2 separate regions of the Homo sapiens genome follow, and region 1 is linked to region 2. The links come from fine-mapping of genetic effects on gene expression. Tissue or cell type: whole blood. Region 2 holds a variant in brackets; the other region holds the start of a gene. All regions are shown on one strand. Distances are from middle to middle.

Evidence for each region. PIP is the estimated chance that this variant, and not a neighbour inherited with it, causes the effect.
Region 1: SWINGN starts here. The variant in region 2 is fine-mapped to the expression of SWINGN in whole blood (TOPMed, PIP above 0.99).

The regions. Positions count from the first base shown.
Region 1 is chr13:113,924,836-113,932,965 of GRCh38, reverse strand. It overlaps SWINGN (SWI/SNF complex interacting GAS6 enhancer non-coding RNA), which reads left to right and starts at 3,975. Exons shown (of 1, transcript NR_047495.1): 1 at 3,975-6,452. It also overlaps a transcript of C13orf46 not described here. RefSeq lists an enhancer at 1,960-2,029.
Region 2 is chr13:113,961,596-113,969,595 of GRCh38, reverse strand. It overlaps C13orf46 (chromosome 13 open reading frame 46), which reads left to right. Exons shown (of 7, transcript NM_001365455.2): 3 at 836-1,001; 4 at 1,082-1,129; 5 at 2,208-2,255; 6 at 4,602-4,669. Among named protein-coding and RNA genes, the nearest start is that of C13orf46, 8.5 kb to the left of the region's middle. The variant TCAC/C (reference allele first, on the strand shown) is at 3,189.

The DNA.
Region 1 (8,130 bases), 37 kb after region 2:
TTGAACCTGGGAAGTGGAGGTTACAGAGAGCCAAGACCACGCCACTGCACTCCAGTGTGGCTGACAGAGCGAGACTCCATCTCAAAAAAAAAAATTGTAATAGGTCATAAATCTAAATGTGTGAACTAAAACAGTAAAACTTGTAAGAAGAAGATAAGATAAAATCATGGTGACTTTTAGTTTGGGAAAGGTTTTTTAAATAGAACACAAAAAGTTCAAACTACATGAAAAAACCAATAAGCTAAATTTTATTAATTTAAAACTTTTGCCCTTTAAGAGACACTATAAAGAGGCAAGCTGCCAAGCTGGAGAAATTATTTGCAAACCATGTTCAAAAAGGACTTCTTTCTAAAACATGTCAAGAAGCCTTTCAACACAATAATGAGACAAAACAATTCAATTAAAAAGTAGGCAAAATATTTGAATGGATATTTCACCAAAGAAGCTATATTAACAGACAGAAGCACGCAAGACGATGCTGACAACCATTTAGTCCTTAGGGAAGTGCAAACGAAGACCAGTATGAGAGGTGCCTACAAACCCACCAGCATGGCTAACATGTTCAAAAGTGGCCCTGCCAAGGGCTGGCGAGGATGTGGGGCAACTGGAGCGCGCAGCATGTTGGCAGGATCATAACACAAGAACCACAGGGAACGGTTCGGCCATTTCTTAAAAAGCTACACAGAGTCACCATGTGACCCAGACATGTCTGTTCTGGGAACGTCCACAGAAAGACTGTGTCGTAAACGTTCACAACAACCTTGCCTGTAATCACCAAAATCCAAAACAACCTGAACGTCCTCCACGGGTCAGTGGATGAACCAATTATGATACACCCATGCAACTAGTGCTCCCCAGCATTGAAAGGATGAATTGTTGGATGAATCTCAAAATAATTACACTGTGAGACAATGTCAGGCAATAAGAGTATACACGCTGTGTTACCCAGGACAGAAATGAATTAATCTACAGTGACAGAAAGGTCAGTGTCATCAGAGGAGCAGGAGGGTGGAGGGACGGGGCAGGGGCCAGCCTGGGGGAGGGGATGTCCATGGTCTCGATTGTGGTCATGGCTCTGTGGGTGCAGCAGAATGTCAAAACTTATCAAACCGTACGTCTTAAATATGGGCATTTAATTGCATGTCAAAAAAATCTAAACAAAGCTGAAAATGGACAAAATACCACAACCAATGACATCTGACCGTAAAGAGATGGATTTAGGTAGAAGGAAGAATTCTTTAACACAGAATATGGGTCTCTGAGGGAAATGTTATCTCGTAATTTTCTCACTTTTGGTGTATTTAAGCTGTAGGACAAGGAGTGAACCCTAACATTTGGTGAGAGTCTGTGAAACACACTAGGAACCCCCATGCTGCTTGCGAGTTACTTCCGAGAAACAGCAGAATGTCACACCCTGTCACCCGCAGGTGCCGTCTGAGGGGCGCTCATCCCCACCAGCCCGAGGGCCTCCCCGCCAAGGGAGGGGTGTACTCCCTTCCACTTGGCGTCTGCTTGTGCATTGCCCCTCCCTGAACTCAAGACCTGAGCCTCTCTCGCCTGGACTATTTGGAAAGTCTACAAATGGAAGAAGGGGTGCTCTCACTGAGTTGTGTCCGCACAAGGGAAACTGTCCAGGAGCCACAGAAGCAACCGCAAAGTGAGCCTCTCAGACGTGGTTAAAGGGAAGCCAGGCAAAAAGACTGCACGCTGTTGGGTTTCATTTACTCAAAACCCTAAAACAGGCAGAATGAGTCATCTGTGGTAAACCAGCATTGGGGTTACCTCTGGGGGCCGGGAGGGAACCCTGGGGTGCCAGTCACGTCTGGCGTCTCGGCCTGGGTGGTGGGGATGGCTCGCCAAGCCTGTTTGTTGCACACGTGGCATGTCAGCAGAAACACGGGGCAAATACACACGTGAACACAAGAACCCCGGGTCCCTCCCTCATCTACCCAGCGACCCTCAGTCACCCCAGCCGGCTCCCTCTCGCCACCCACGGGCTTTCTGTGGAGGCCCCAGCCTGGCCCTGGAGGCCGTGACCCACCCCGCCTCTTGCCTGAGGTCAGCCCAAGAGACCTTCCTGTCTTCGGCCTGGAGAAGGAGCGGCCGCCAGGACCACCCGGGCCTCAGCTCCCTGGGAGGGCCCCTGGAGGACCGGGGCTGCTAAAGTCCACGGGCATCACCGCATCTAATCCAGGCCCTTTGATGTGGGTGATGTTGATACTCCCACTTTACAGGTGGGGAAACCAAGGCTTCAGCTTCCGTGGCCAGGGGATGAATGGGAGTGTGGTCTGGATGGTGGCTCCTGGACCGGAAGCATGATGGGAGCCATGAGGAATGCAGGTTCTTGGGTCCTTCCAGCTCTGCTGGATTGGATGCTCGTGGGGGCTCAGGGTCAACACAACCCCCCAGGACTCTGACCTGGGAAGTGGAGCAGCCTGATTTGGAGGCGAGGACACACCAGGAGGCACCTTGCCCTGTGGCCACTGCACTGAGGCTTGAGAGATCACTAGAGACAGCTCAGCCTCAGTGCTCCCGCGCCCCCGCCTCGGTGCTCCTGCGCCCCCGCCTCGGTGCTCCTGCGCCCCCGCCTCGGTGCTCCTGCGCCCCCACCTCGGTGCTCCTCCACTCCCACCCCGGTGCTCCTTCCACCTCTGCCTCACCCGATGGACTGTGCCTTTGCGTTTCTTGTGCACAAATCCTGCTGAAGTCTGGGCAGCTGTGTGTTTGATGATGGGCTTGTAGGAGAGAAGCATCTGGACTGCGCCGTGCAGATGGCGCTTCTCTCCAGGCACAGTCACATTCCTGGGAGGTTCCTGGAGGCCTCCGAGCCTCGTGCAGACCCAAGGCTGCCTCACCACCATGGCCACAGCCCAGTGCTGGCTGCCGGGCATCAAATCTGCAGAAATGCACGTGGCATAAAAGCACCAGAGACATCCGTCCAGAGCCGAGGGCTCCTCCCTGGCCCAACATTTTGTCCACGTAAGTCCACTTTTTGGCTGCTGCTCCCAGGCCTGGCAAGAACGCAGATCCCCACAGCCTCCTGCTCCCTGGCAGCCTGAGGACAGTGTCGTAGGCCTGGGATCCTCGGGCAGAACTGAATGCAGCTTTTCCATTGGAGGGCGCTGGGCCCACATGGCAATCACAGGTATGGCAGATGAACTCACGGGATGCTCCGGGACTCCAGGGGCCTCAGGAGAAAGGCCCACTGGCAGCGGGTTGCCCAGGGCTCCAGAGGGGGGCTCCAATGTGAACCAGTTGCTTGTGGCACAGCGGGTCACCCAGGATGGCCCTGCGTGGTCAGTGATAACAGGCAGTCACTCACAGCGCGACTTCACCCATGGTCACTCCCGGTGACCAGCACTGCACAGCCTGGGCTTTCGTCCCACATGGCACCTCCCTGTCCAGCCTTGGCCCAAGTGCCTGGGAAACAGACAGGGCACCGTGTGCCTGAACACACTCGGACAGTCGAGGCCCCCAGGAGAAGCAACAGGCAATGACTCGGTCCCCAAGAAGCTGAGCCTGTCCTTGCTGGGGTCTGTCATCTCCTCTTAGCCCCGCCAGGCTCCTGAAGCTGCCACATGTGCAGCGGGAGGTGGGTGGTTTGGGAGCAGAGCGAGGCTCTGGATGGACGGGCTTTACCACCAGCAGCCACCACCACCTGCTCTGCAGGGCCTGGGCCAGCCCTGAGGAGGTGGCAGACGGAAGGAGGGGCAGCACTGCCTCAGGTCTCCTTTACTGTCTTCCAGACATCAGCTCAGGGAGAGTAGGCATGTAGCACTGAGAAACAGGGTTGCTCCCCATGGCTGCCTCTGCTTCCCTGCCGCACAGTGTCTGTACACGGCCTGGGGACCTGCGAGGCCAGACCGCAGGGCAGGGGCCCACGGCTGTGCCAGCTTCTCTCCCAGGCCGTGGCGGTTATTACCTCCTGACTTGGCAGAGCATCCGGCTACTGGAGCCCATTGGTTCCGGCCAGTGCAGTCAGGACTTAGCTTCCCAGCTGTGATCTAAATCCCAGCCTCCCAAAGGCACAGCGCCTAAGTTCTCCCCTGCCAAGCTCACAGCCTTCTCCTTGGCAGGCTGCCCTTTCTCCTGCTGGACCAAACCAAGGAGCACGGTGACCCAGGGACACCACACTCGGTGTCAGCCTCTGAGGCCATGGAGCCACGCAGACCCAGCACAGGATTAGAAACAGACCTTCCCGGGAGGCAGAGAGCCAGGCCTCCTGGTTTATAGCATGACAAGGCAGCACTCAGGAGGACGCATCAATCCTTCTCCATGTCAGCACCTGTGACTGTGACCACTGGTGAGGTGGACATGCTTCTTTTTCCATTTTACAGATGAGGAAACTGAGGCCAAGGGAGGGTCAGCAGCCTGCCCTGGGCTGACTGGTGATGCAGCGAGGGTGGGGTGTGGGAGGGTGGCGGCGGCCCTTGCAGTCCCTGGGAACCTGCACCTCTTCCTGGGCGCTGTTCCCCTCTCTCTCCCAGGACCCTTGGGCCTGGCGTTTCTTCACCTGCGACCATCCAGGAGCTGGACCTGCCCTAGGGCGTCAGTTTCCAGGGAAGCCTCTGGCCTGTGTGTGAGCCTCCCCACCTGCCCGGCCACGGCCTCCACAGGCGCCCTGCGCAGCCCCGCCCCTCCTGGGGCAAAGGCTTTGCGAAGACTTTCTTCTCTGGCTCATCCCTTTAAGGAGGCATAAAAACGAACCCCGGGCCTCACAGGTCCGGAATGCGCCCCCCTCCACGATGGGAGCTTCTTGGCCTTGGCTGTGCAGGGGCCGCGGCTCCTGGGGGTCTGGCCGGATCTGCAGTAGTGCTGAATGAGCTGTGGCCAGGAAGACGCAATGAATAATTGTCACTTAAAAGGATAAACAGAAATTCCATTTCCCTTTTAAATACTTGAACATTTCAAAACATCTGGAGGACGCGATGCTTTTCCTTCCAAGCATCTCCGTGGAGTTTTGTGGGTTACCGCAGAGGATCGGCAGCATTCCTCTCTCAGGGAAAACTGGCCTGAGCATTGCATAACGCAGGCAGACTGCACCCCTCACGTCGCCTGGGGCCACATGCACATGTTTCCAAGAGACTTGCTGGAGAATCTTCCCCGGATCTTGACAAAGTTGGACATGGAAAGCACGTTGGTCCATCCAAGGTCCACAGAGCGACCCTGGCTATGAAAAATCATCCTCCGAGTGGGAGTCTGTCTGCCAGGAGTGAGGTGACACCGCACATGGCCTCAGGAGCTGGAAACGCTGGTGAATTCAGATGCAGCCAAAGCTTCTAACTTAGTCACAGTTATTAATTATTCTTGGTCTTATTGGAGCAGGAACCACTGCCATGCATCAGGCCAGCAAGGCTCACTCCCCACCGTAGGATCCCTGTGTAGACGGTCGCTCCATCAGTGTAGTTGGGTGTGTGGAGCAAGGGACTGGGCTGACCCTACCTTCCAAGCATCGATGTGGCCTTCAGCAGAGCAGGAGGAGATAGCCCAGGACTTGTACTTTGCAGTTGAAGTGCCAGACCTAAGAAATGCAAACCTGAGGATGGAAAGAGGGTGGAGAGGGGGGAGGTGTCTGGATTGGCCGTCCAGAGCAGCCCCAGCTGCAGCAAGTGGAACTTGGCTGGCTGCCTCACAGGCCTGGTGGCAGCGTCCCCAGCGAGGAGCCTGTCCCACATATGAAGGTCCCCATACCCTTAGCCCCTAGCTGAGAGTTTCACTGACCAGAGCTCCCTGAGTCCAGGGCTCCACTCAAGGGACTGCTGTCCCCGTTGGTGAAGAAGGCCTGTTGGGGCCAATGCTTCCCCCCACAGGGAAGCGGAGCTGTATTTTGTCGGACAGAACTTTGCAAGCCTGAAACAGCTGGTGGTGGCCCCAGAGCCAAGATCTGACCTCACTCCAGAGTTGAAGGGCACAGAGAAGGCACAGCTAGAGGCGGCAGGTACCCCTCAAAGCTCTCGGGAGAGGGTACAAAGTGGGACCTCCCAGCACCCTTGGCCTCCAGGCCTCAAAAGCCCTGAGAGGGCTGCATGCAAGGAGACAAAGCTGGAGAAGGATGTGGGAGGCAGGTGGCTAAGAAGACAGGCTGGAAAGGGACGTGGGAGGTAGGTGGCTTTGCTCTAAACAGAATCGTCTCAGTAATGTGACACTGCACATGTATAGGTAGGCTCGCTCATGGGCATAACCCTCTAAAACACACCTTTTATGGAGTGAAATTCACTTAACAGCCATCTTGAAGCATATACTTCGGCGGCATTTGCTGGATTCACGACGTTGTGCAACCTCTGCTTCTCCAGTTTCAGAACATTTCATCCCTCCAGAACAACAGCTCATCCCCATTAAGTAATCACTCCTCATTCCTTCCCCATCCTCTGGAAACCACAGATCTGCTTTCTGTCTCTATGGATTTGTCCGTTTTGGATATTTCATATAAAAGGAATCACGCGGTGTGCGAACGTTTGTGTCTCACTTCTTTCGGTGGAAGCCACATTTCCAAGCCTCATCCCAGTGGTGGCCCCTGAGTCCCCTCAGTGTATCAGTGTCTCACTTCTGTTCACAGATGCATAATATCCCACCCCAGGGACCGGGCACCATTTGTTAATCCCTTCACCTGTGGTGGACACCCGGTCGTCTCCGCCTGCCGAGACCAGCTCGGTCAGGGAGACCCTAACCCAGCGGCGCTAGAGGAATTAAAGACACACACACACACAGAAATACAGAGGTGTGGAGTGGGAAATCGGGGCTGACAGCCTTCAGAGCTGAGAGCCTTGAACAGAGATTTACCCACATATTTATTGACAGCAAGCCAGTGATAAGCATTGTTTTTATAGATTATAGATTTAAAGGCATTCTTTATGGGAAATAAAGGGATGGGCTGGAAATAAAGGGATGGGTTTGGCTGGTTACCTGCAGGAGGAGCATGCCCTTAAGGCACAGATCGCTCACGCTATTGTTTGTGGATTAAGAATGTCTTTAAGCGGTTTTCCGCCCTGAATGGGCCAGGCGTTCCTTGCCCTCATTCCGGTAAACCCACAACCTTCCAGCGTGGGCGTCATGACCATCATGAGCATGTTACAGTGCTGCAGAGATTTTGTTTATGGCCAGTTTTGGGGCCAGTTTATGGCCAGATTTTGGGGGGCCTGTTCCCAACATCCGCCTTCCAGCTGTTACGAAGGACGTAGCTACGAGCGTCTGTGTGCGCGTTTCCGAGGGAACAGGTTTTGTTTCCATGGGGCGTGTGCTTAAGGGGTAAATGCTGAGTCCCATGCTAAGTGTATGCCTAAACTTTTTCAGGAACCACCAAAGTGTTTTCTGCAGCAGCCACACCATTTTACATTCCCACTCCACATTCTCGCATTTTTCTACTTAAAAAAACTCCAGGCAGAGGGAACAGAACAGGTAAAGACCAGAGGCCCAGTAGGCGGTGCTTGGCTGGAGCTCACCAGGGGCTGGACCAGAGGACACGAGAAAGACGGGAGTGGAAGCTGATGCCCAGTGGTGGATGGCAACGAGGGCTCGGGTGGCTGGGCCGTGTCGCTTATGCAGAGGAAACGGAGATGCTTGGAAATGCTTTGCAGAGGTGAGAATATGGCTTGTTGGGAGAGCGCTTGTGTATCTGGAATTATCTGAGGCCTGGAGGAGTGACACCAGTGACAAAGCCTTTGCAGGACACCCAGGAGGCCATGGGAGTTGTCAGGTGGGACTGCCATGAGAGAGGGCTGGAGAGAAGAGGCGGGCAGAGGACACAGCCTGGGAGCATCTGCAGTCTGGGCAGAGGCGGAAGCAGCCTTCAGGGCGGTAGGTGGGAAGGAGACAGGGCAGAGAGGGTTATCCAGGACTCTGGGGAGAAGAGGCAGGTCCCAAGTTGTTTACCAAGAATTTACATTAAAATAACATAAGCTAGGCTGAGTGTTGTCACACCTGTAATCCCAGCACTTTGGGAGGCCAAGGCAGGCGGATCATTTGAGGTGAGGAGTTTGAGACCAGCCTGGCCAACATGGTGAAACCCCGTCTCTACTAAAAATACAAAAAATTATCCTGGTGTGGTGGCGTGTGCCTGTAATCCCAGCTACGCTGGAGGCTGAGGCATGAGACTCGCTTGAATCCAGGAGGCAGAGGTTGCAGTAAGCTGAG
Region 2 (8,000 bases):
ACCAGCACCATGGCAAGGCACGGGCCAAGTCCCCCTTATTTACAAATGGCTCCCGTTGAGTGGAGACCAAGGAAGGTGTCCGGCCGCCGAAGCGGCCAAAGGTGCAATCAGTTGGTGAGAGTGAGTGTTCGTGTGTTAGACAGGATGTGTGCGGCGCCTGGAGCCTCCCACTCCGTAGAGCTCAGGGAAGCTGATGGCCTTGGTGAGGGCAGTTGAGCTGGGAAGACCACACACCTTTAGGGTGGCAAAGCTGAAAGCGTCTGCTCACGTTGGCCAAGTCAGTCAATACCCTCGGCCAAGTCAACGCCATTGCAGATGGTGGCGGAGCCCCTGTCATCCTCACTGCCTGTTGCATTCCTCTTGCCCCTGGCCACACACCATAGCAGACCACAGAAGGGGTCACGAGGTTGGTGCGAGTAACAGCAGGGCCAACCGTGGACCCTCCAGCCTACTGGCCAGCATGGCCCATTTGGTATCCACATGGAGTGTGGATCTGCGACAGGGTGGCTGCATCTTCTCATCAGATTTTGGTTCTTTGAGCAAGGTTAGACCCTGCTTTCCAAAATAAGCCCAGGTTGGCTGTAATCCCAGTCCAGACCCTGGCTGTACAGGGTAAGTTTTCCAGGCAAGATGGGCCAGCAGAGGGAGCCAGGAGGGCCAGGCTGTGGGGCCCTTCAGAGCCAGAACTCTGTGCTGGGTCAGGGCACCTCATAGGTGCCCACCAGACCCCAGGGGCACCAGCCTCAAGCCCAAGGAGACAGACCCAGAGGAGACCAGGAGCTGCCCGCAGCTATCTGCCGTCTCTTCCAAACCACTTTCCCTGCTCCTCCCGCAGTCAGAAAAACCTAGCACAAGACAAGAAGGAAAGCTTCAGCACCCTTGGGAAGCTGGGTCATGAGAGTGGAAAACAAGACCCAGAGAGGGAGAAGAGCGACTTGGAGGCCAGCATGCAGGAGGTGCAGGAAGGCGAGCACGCAGACGGAGGCTTGCAGGAGGCCAAGGTTGGGCCACGCTGAGGAGCGGTGCATTTTTTCCTCTTGCCTTGGAGCCCGGCCTTCACTTAACCTCTTTGGTCTTACAGGAACAGGAGGCAGAGTCCATAAAGCTAAATGACCTTCAGGAAGAAGAGGTAAGAGCTTTTCCCTTTAGTAATAGAAGTGAGAAGGGAGGCCTGTCCAGGCGGGAGTTCTGCCGGAGCCTGGACCTGCCCGGGACGGTGGCCTGGGGGTCAGCTCAGCAGGCGCCAGGCTGTGAAGCTGGACTGACTGGGCCCCTGCTACCCTAGAGAGGCTTGGGGCCAAGCTCTGAGACTCTTTACCCGATCCCAGGGCAGCCTGACCCCTGCTTGCCAAACGTGCAGTCACTAAAGGTGTATGAGGCCCTGAGAGGAGGTGCCCTCAGCTTGACCTTGGCCCAGAAAACACCCAGAGCCCCAGGCTTGATGTGTTGTCCAGGGACACGTCATGCTGTGGGGGTTCTCACGTGGCACCGTGTGAAGGAAAGTGGCTTTTGTTCTCCCTCCAAGCTGTGTGGTGGGGACGGTAACACAACCAGACACGCTGCTTGCCAGGCGGGCCTTGCTTTCATTCCAGGGCTCTTGGGAAGTCCTTCACCCACCCCCAGACACTGCCCTTGGAGTTGACTCAAATGCTCCCATCAGACACACGTTCTGGGCTGGCCCAGGTGCCCCGTTGGAGGCCTTGGGACAGCAAAACCCTGAGCCGCTGAAGCCGTTCACATCCCGGGGGGGGTCTCCTGCTCCTTGGTGTGGAGTGTGGCCCACAGGCAGGCTGTGGGGCAGGAGTGCTGCCTTGTCGAGCAGGGCTGGGGTGGGAGCAGCCCGGCTCCCCAAGATCTGGGCATTGCCCCATCTCCTGGAGGCCCGAGTTCTCAGAGGATGAGGTTGGAGGAGACCCTCTGGGGTCTCAGGGCCCTGATGGGAGGTGAGTAGGGAGGGGTGAGAAAGCCATATCCCTCCTACATCCTTCTCCTACATGGGCACCTCACAGTCCATACTGCCGTCAGCTCTGCCCAGCGTCCCAGGAGCCCTCGTTCAGCATTGCCAGGATCTGGGGACCTGATGGTCATCACCAGGGTCTGCCCCGGCTGCCCCAAGGGCCAGGGGCCACTGTTCCTCCCAGGGAATCAACGTTCCTCTCCAGCTCACCCAAGCCTGCCATCCACACCTCTGTGGTTTCCATTCGCAGAAAGCATCTGTGTTTGTGGAGATTGATCTGGGAGACCATGCTGAGGAGGTAAAAATGGAAAACCGCAAGACAAGCAGAGCCAAAGCCACCAGGAAAGCGCCTGTGCTGCCTGGCAGGGCCAGCCTGGGAGGCTTTTCTGGGAACTTACCCCACAATAGCCATGTGTTGGATAGGGAGGCAGAGACCTGGGGCCAGCAGCTCCAGGAGAGCTCCCTGGTGTTGAGGATTGGTCTAGCCTCTTCCTTACCCTCCCACACTCCAACTCACGCACACTTCAGCACTATCAGAGACTCTGGGGCCTGGGTTAACCTTCAAGGTGCCCATGGGTCCTCAGAACCTCTTGTGGGGGATCACGTTGGGATGGTGAAAAGGGCACAGGCCTGGAAGCTCAGAGACTGGGCTTTGGTGGATGTGTGGTTCTGTCAGTAAATGCTCAAAACAACTCATCATACTTCCCTGTGCCTCAGTTGTCTCCTCTATAAAGTAGGAATCATATTAGTACCCGCATTCCAGGGTTGTCTGGGAAAGCTCTCAGAGCAGTGCCTCACACCCAGGAAAGCTTATCATCATCATCATGGGGTATCATCATCATCATCACCACCATTACTATCCTCAGCATCAACACCATCATTATATCACAACCATCATCATCATCACCACCAGCAACATCATCCCCATAAACATTATCACCATCATCATTAATATCACCATCATTATCACATCACCACCATCATTCCCATCAGCAGCATCATCATCATCATCACTATCATGACCATCATCACTGTCACCATCATCATCACCATCACCACTATCACTATCACCATCATCGTCACTATTACCATCACCATTATTACCATCATCACCTTCACCATCATCACCACCATTATAATCACCATCACCATCATCATCACCATTATAATCATCACCACCGTCATCATCACCATTAATACCATCACCATCATTATCACATCATCATCATCA[TCAC/C]CATCATTAATACCATCACCATCATCATCATCACCATCATTAATATCATCACCGTCATTATCACATCACCACCATCATTCCCATCACCAGCATCATCATCACCATCACTATCATGACCATCATCACCACCATCACTGTCACCATCATCATCACCATCACCACTATCGCTATCCCCATCATCACCACCATTATAATCACCATCATCATGACCATCATCACCATCATCATCATCACCATCACCACTATCACCGTCACCATTGTCATCATCACCATTATAATCACCATCATCACCATCATCATCATCACCATCATTAATACCATCATCACATCACCACCATCATTCCCATCACCAGCATCATCATCACCATCACTATCATGACCATCATCACCACCATCATCATCATCACCACTATCACTGTCACCATCATCACCAACATTATAATCACCATCACCATCATCATCACCATCATAATCATCATCATTGTCACCATCACCATCGCCATCATCACCATCACCATTACCACCATCATCACCATCACCATCATCACCACCATCACCATCATCACCATCACCATTATCACCATCATCACCTTCACCATCATCACCACCATTATAATTACCATCATCACCATCACCATCATCACCATCACCATCATCACCATCATCACCTTCACCATCATCACCACCATTATAATCACCATCACCATTGTCACCATCATCATCACCATCACCATTATAATCACCATCATCATTGTCACAATCATCATCACTGTCATCATCACCACCATCACCAGTATAGTCACCGTCATCATCACCACCATTATAATCATCATCATCACCATCGTCATCACCATCAACATTATCACCACCATAATCATCATCCTTATCTGTAAGAAGAAGAGGCTGACTTAATGACCTGTCTGGGCACTTCCAACACTAACATCTGGGGTGTGTTCCTCCATGTCTTTGCTGTAGTGAACAGTCATCATTCTGGAAGTTTATTGAAGTTCTTTCTTGGCAAGTTTAAGCTCCTTCCTGGGGGTCAGTTATTTTCCAGACTGTACCTTCTCTCCCTTTTGCCCTCAGAGCCACAGAGAGAGCTGGTTGTTAACCCCCAACAAGGCTATTCTTGGGGCACATGAGTTCTAAGGACTCAAGGAGGGCCAGTCAGTGGCACAGTTGGGCTGACAGGCCAGACCTGGTCTTCAGTCCAGGAGCCAGGCCTCATCAAGGGTGCAGTTCCTTGGTCAGGTTCCCCTAACTGGAAATGTCCAGTCAATAGAGAGCCCTGTCTGATGGGAGGTCATCCAGCCTCTGTGCCCTAGCCTGATCCTCCAGCAGGTCCACAGGCTATGCCTCAGTGCCCGTGGCTGACACCTCCCATCCCTTAAATGTCTCCACTCCCCACAGGTGGTCACCGATGCCAAGAAGGAAGAGAAGCCGTCCCAGATGGATGTGGAAGATCTGTCAGAAGACGAGTGAGTGATGCTTGTGGGCTCACACTAGGTGGGGGTAGGAGGACTTTCCCCCCACCACGGTCTCTGGTGTGCCCACCATGCCTTGTGTGTGGTGGGCAGAGCCGAGCCCAGGCGGTCCCCCCTTCTCCCTGGGCACTGCCGAGGCTCAGCACCTGCCGAGCCTGAGGGACTGAGGGCAGGGAACAGGACATCGGACCTTCGAAGGGCTCAGGGACGAGCTTCACGATGCCCCACCTCACCCCATAACCAGGCCGTGTCTCCTACCCACCAGCCAGGAAAAGGACCTGATGAGAAGGGGGAAGAGGAGGGAGAGTAGGGAGGAAGGAGGGGGGAGAGGTGATAAGTGCATGGTACTGACTTCTCCTGTTTAGGTTTTAGCTGCAGACTTGGGTCCTGCAGGTAGTGGGAAGCCGTGCATACACGGCTGGTGTCACAGCCAAGCAGGCTTCTCTCACAACAAGCCTCGGGCCCTGGGGCCGGGGCTAGGCAGCCTCCGAAGAGATGATCCGTGTCCCCAGGCTGGATGCTGTGTAGGTCCAGGGAAGCCCCAAGACTCCCCGAGGCCCGAGGCCCTGAAGATGGGTGTGGGGAGAGAAGACACTGGCCCATTGAAGGGGGCCCATGGATCTATAGTGTTTTATTTTAAGCAACACACAAAAATACAAAAAGCAATTGTCCAAATGCCTACCACTCAGAATTAACAGTTTATCAGTATTTTGATTTCTTACAGATTTTTTTAAAGGATGAATTGTTCTATCGGCTTTATAAAACAGTCACATGATACTAAACCTTCTTTCAGCCTGTAATCCCAGCACTTTGGGAGGTTGAGGTGGGCAGATCATGAGGTCAGGAGATCGAGACCATCCTGGCCAACATGGTGAAACCCTGTGTTTACCAAAATACAAAAAATTAGCTGGGCGTGGTGACAGGTGCCTGTAGTTCCAGCTACTAGGGAGGCCGAGGCAGGAGAATCGCTTGAACCCAGGAGGCGGAGGTTGCGGTGAACCGAGATAGCACCACTGCACTCCAGCCTGGGTGACAAGAGCGAAACTCCATCTCAAACAAACAAACAACAGTTACATTAACATTTTAACCAGTCATTTACAATAACGGGAATTATGTGGAATAGCACAACAGAGAGAAATGTTTAAAAATCACCCCAGCTTCCACCTCTTAAAAGCACATGGGAGCACCTGACTTTCGACACTGAGGACAGTGGCTGCAGCTGAGGCTGAGGACAGGGGCCGTGGCTGAGGACAGGGGCAAGGCTGAGGACGGGCGAGGCTGAGGAGAGGGGGCTGTGGCTGAGGACAAGGACTGCGGCTGAGGACAGGGGCCGAGGCTGAGGACAGGGGCGAGGCTGAGGACTGGAGCGAGGGCTGAGGACAGGGGTGAGGCTGAGGACAGGGGCGAGGCTGAGGACAGGGGCCGAGGCTGAGGACGGGCTGAGGCTGAGGACAGGGGTGAAGCTGAGGACAGGGGCCGAGGCTGAGGACAGGGCCGAGGCTGAGGACAGGGGCGAGGCTGAGGACAGGGGCGAGGCTGAGGACGGGAGAGGCTGAGGACGGGCCGAGGCTGAGGACGGGGCGAGGGCTGAGGACAGGGACCGAGGCTGAGGACAGGGGTGAAGCTGAGGACAGGGGCCGAGGCTGAGGACAGGGCCGAGGCTGAGGACAGGGGCGAGGCTGAGGACAGGGGCCGAGGCTGAGGACAGGGGCAAGGCTGAGGACGGGCTGAGGCTGAGGATAGCGGGGAGGCTGAGGACAGGGGCTGCAGCTGTACCTGCCAAGCGGCATCCTTGCCCAGGGCCAGCTTTGAGAGCTGCAGCCCTCGGCCCCCGACTGGTCTGGCTTTGCTGACGGATTGCTGCTGTGATGATGACAGCCCTACCTGCGCTACCTGCTCTCAGATTTTTATGTCTCCAGGGAGAGAGAAAGTCCTCGAGAACATTGCACTCTGCCCCAACTCAGCAGAGTCTCTGCCTCTTTTGACTCCTACCGTAACCAGGTCACACCAGCTTTCACTAGGACATTGGGGTTGTTTTGACTCCTGAGTCTGGGCTTAAAATGGGCAGGTATTTTCCAAGTACAGCTCTATTTTTCTCATCGTTTCCTGATGATGGATTTGGCACTCGGCACACAGCTCGATGGCTGTTTTCTGCCCCAAGCTGGACAATCCTGGGTCGAAATCTCCTGGTCTCAGCCTCCATCCCCCTTGACTCAGCTATCCCAGAAAACCTGCCCAGTGGGGCTGCTGGTGGCGTGCAGTGGGGAGAGCTGCCAGCAGAAACGAGCTGACGTGGCTTCTTAGGTTTGCTACCTCATCTCACAAATTCCCCCTTTGGATCACCATCCAGTTGCATTTACAAGACCCAATGCTGATTTCCCAATACCGGGAGGTTCCCGCCCAGGAAGGCCGAGAGTCCTCAGCCGTGGCTGTAATGAATGGGCATCAGCTCACGTGCACACTTGCGTGTTCATTGGAAAATGCTTTGGCAGGCTCCATCTCTTTTTTTGTTTTTGAGACACAGTCTCACTCTGTTGCCCAGGCTGGAGTGCAGTGGCACCATCTCGGCTCACTGCAAGCTCCGCCCCCCAGGTTCACGCCATTCTCCTGCCTCAGCCTCCTGAGTAGCTGGGACTACAGGCGCCCACCACCACGCCCAGCTAGATTTTTTTTGTATTTTTAGTAGAGCCAGGGTTTCGCCGTGTTAGCCAGGATGGTCTCGATCTCCTGACCTCAGGATCCACCTGCCTCAGCCTCCCGATGTGCTGGGATTACAGGCGTGAGCCACCGCACCCAGCCTCCATCTCTTTTTTAATTAGCATGATCTGGATTTTCTTTTTCCTAGTGTTGCCTTTTCCTGTACCTGCCCAACACAATACATCCCCAGGACTGTTACAGGGAAACCACAGATCACGCAGAGCACTGCACACTTCATAGCATCAGAGGGGCCACAGATCACGCAGAGCTCTGCACACTTCATAGTTCCAGAGTAGCCACAGATCACACATAGCTCTGCACAGTTCATAGTTCCAGAGTAGCCACAGATCATGGAGAGCACTGCACACTTTATAGCATCAGAGGGGCCACAGATCACGCACAGCTCTGCACACTTCATAGTTCCAGAGTAGCCACAGATCACACAGAGCACACAGAGCACTGCACACTTCACAGCATCACAGTAACTACAGATTGGAAAAAAAATGGATAACCAGTGAACAAAACTGGAACCACTTTTGTATATTATGTCATTAATTGTGCTCTTAATATTTCCCACCTTTTTGTACCCATATTTATTACAGTCCTTTCCACAAAAAGCAGTTTTGGA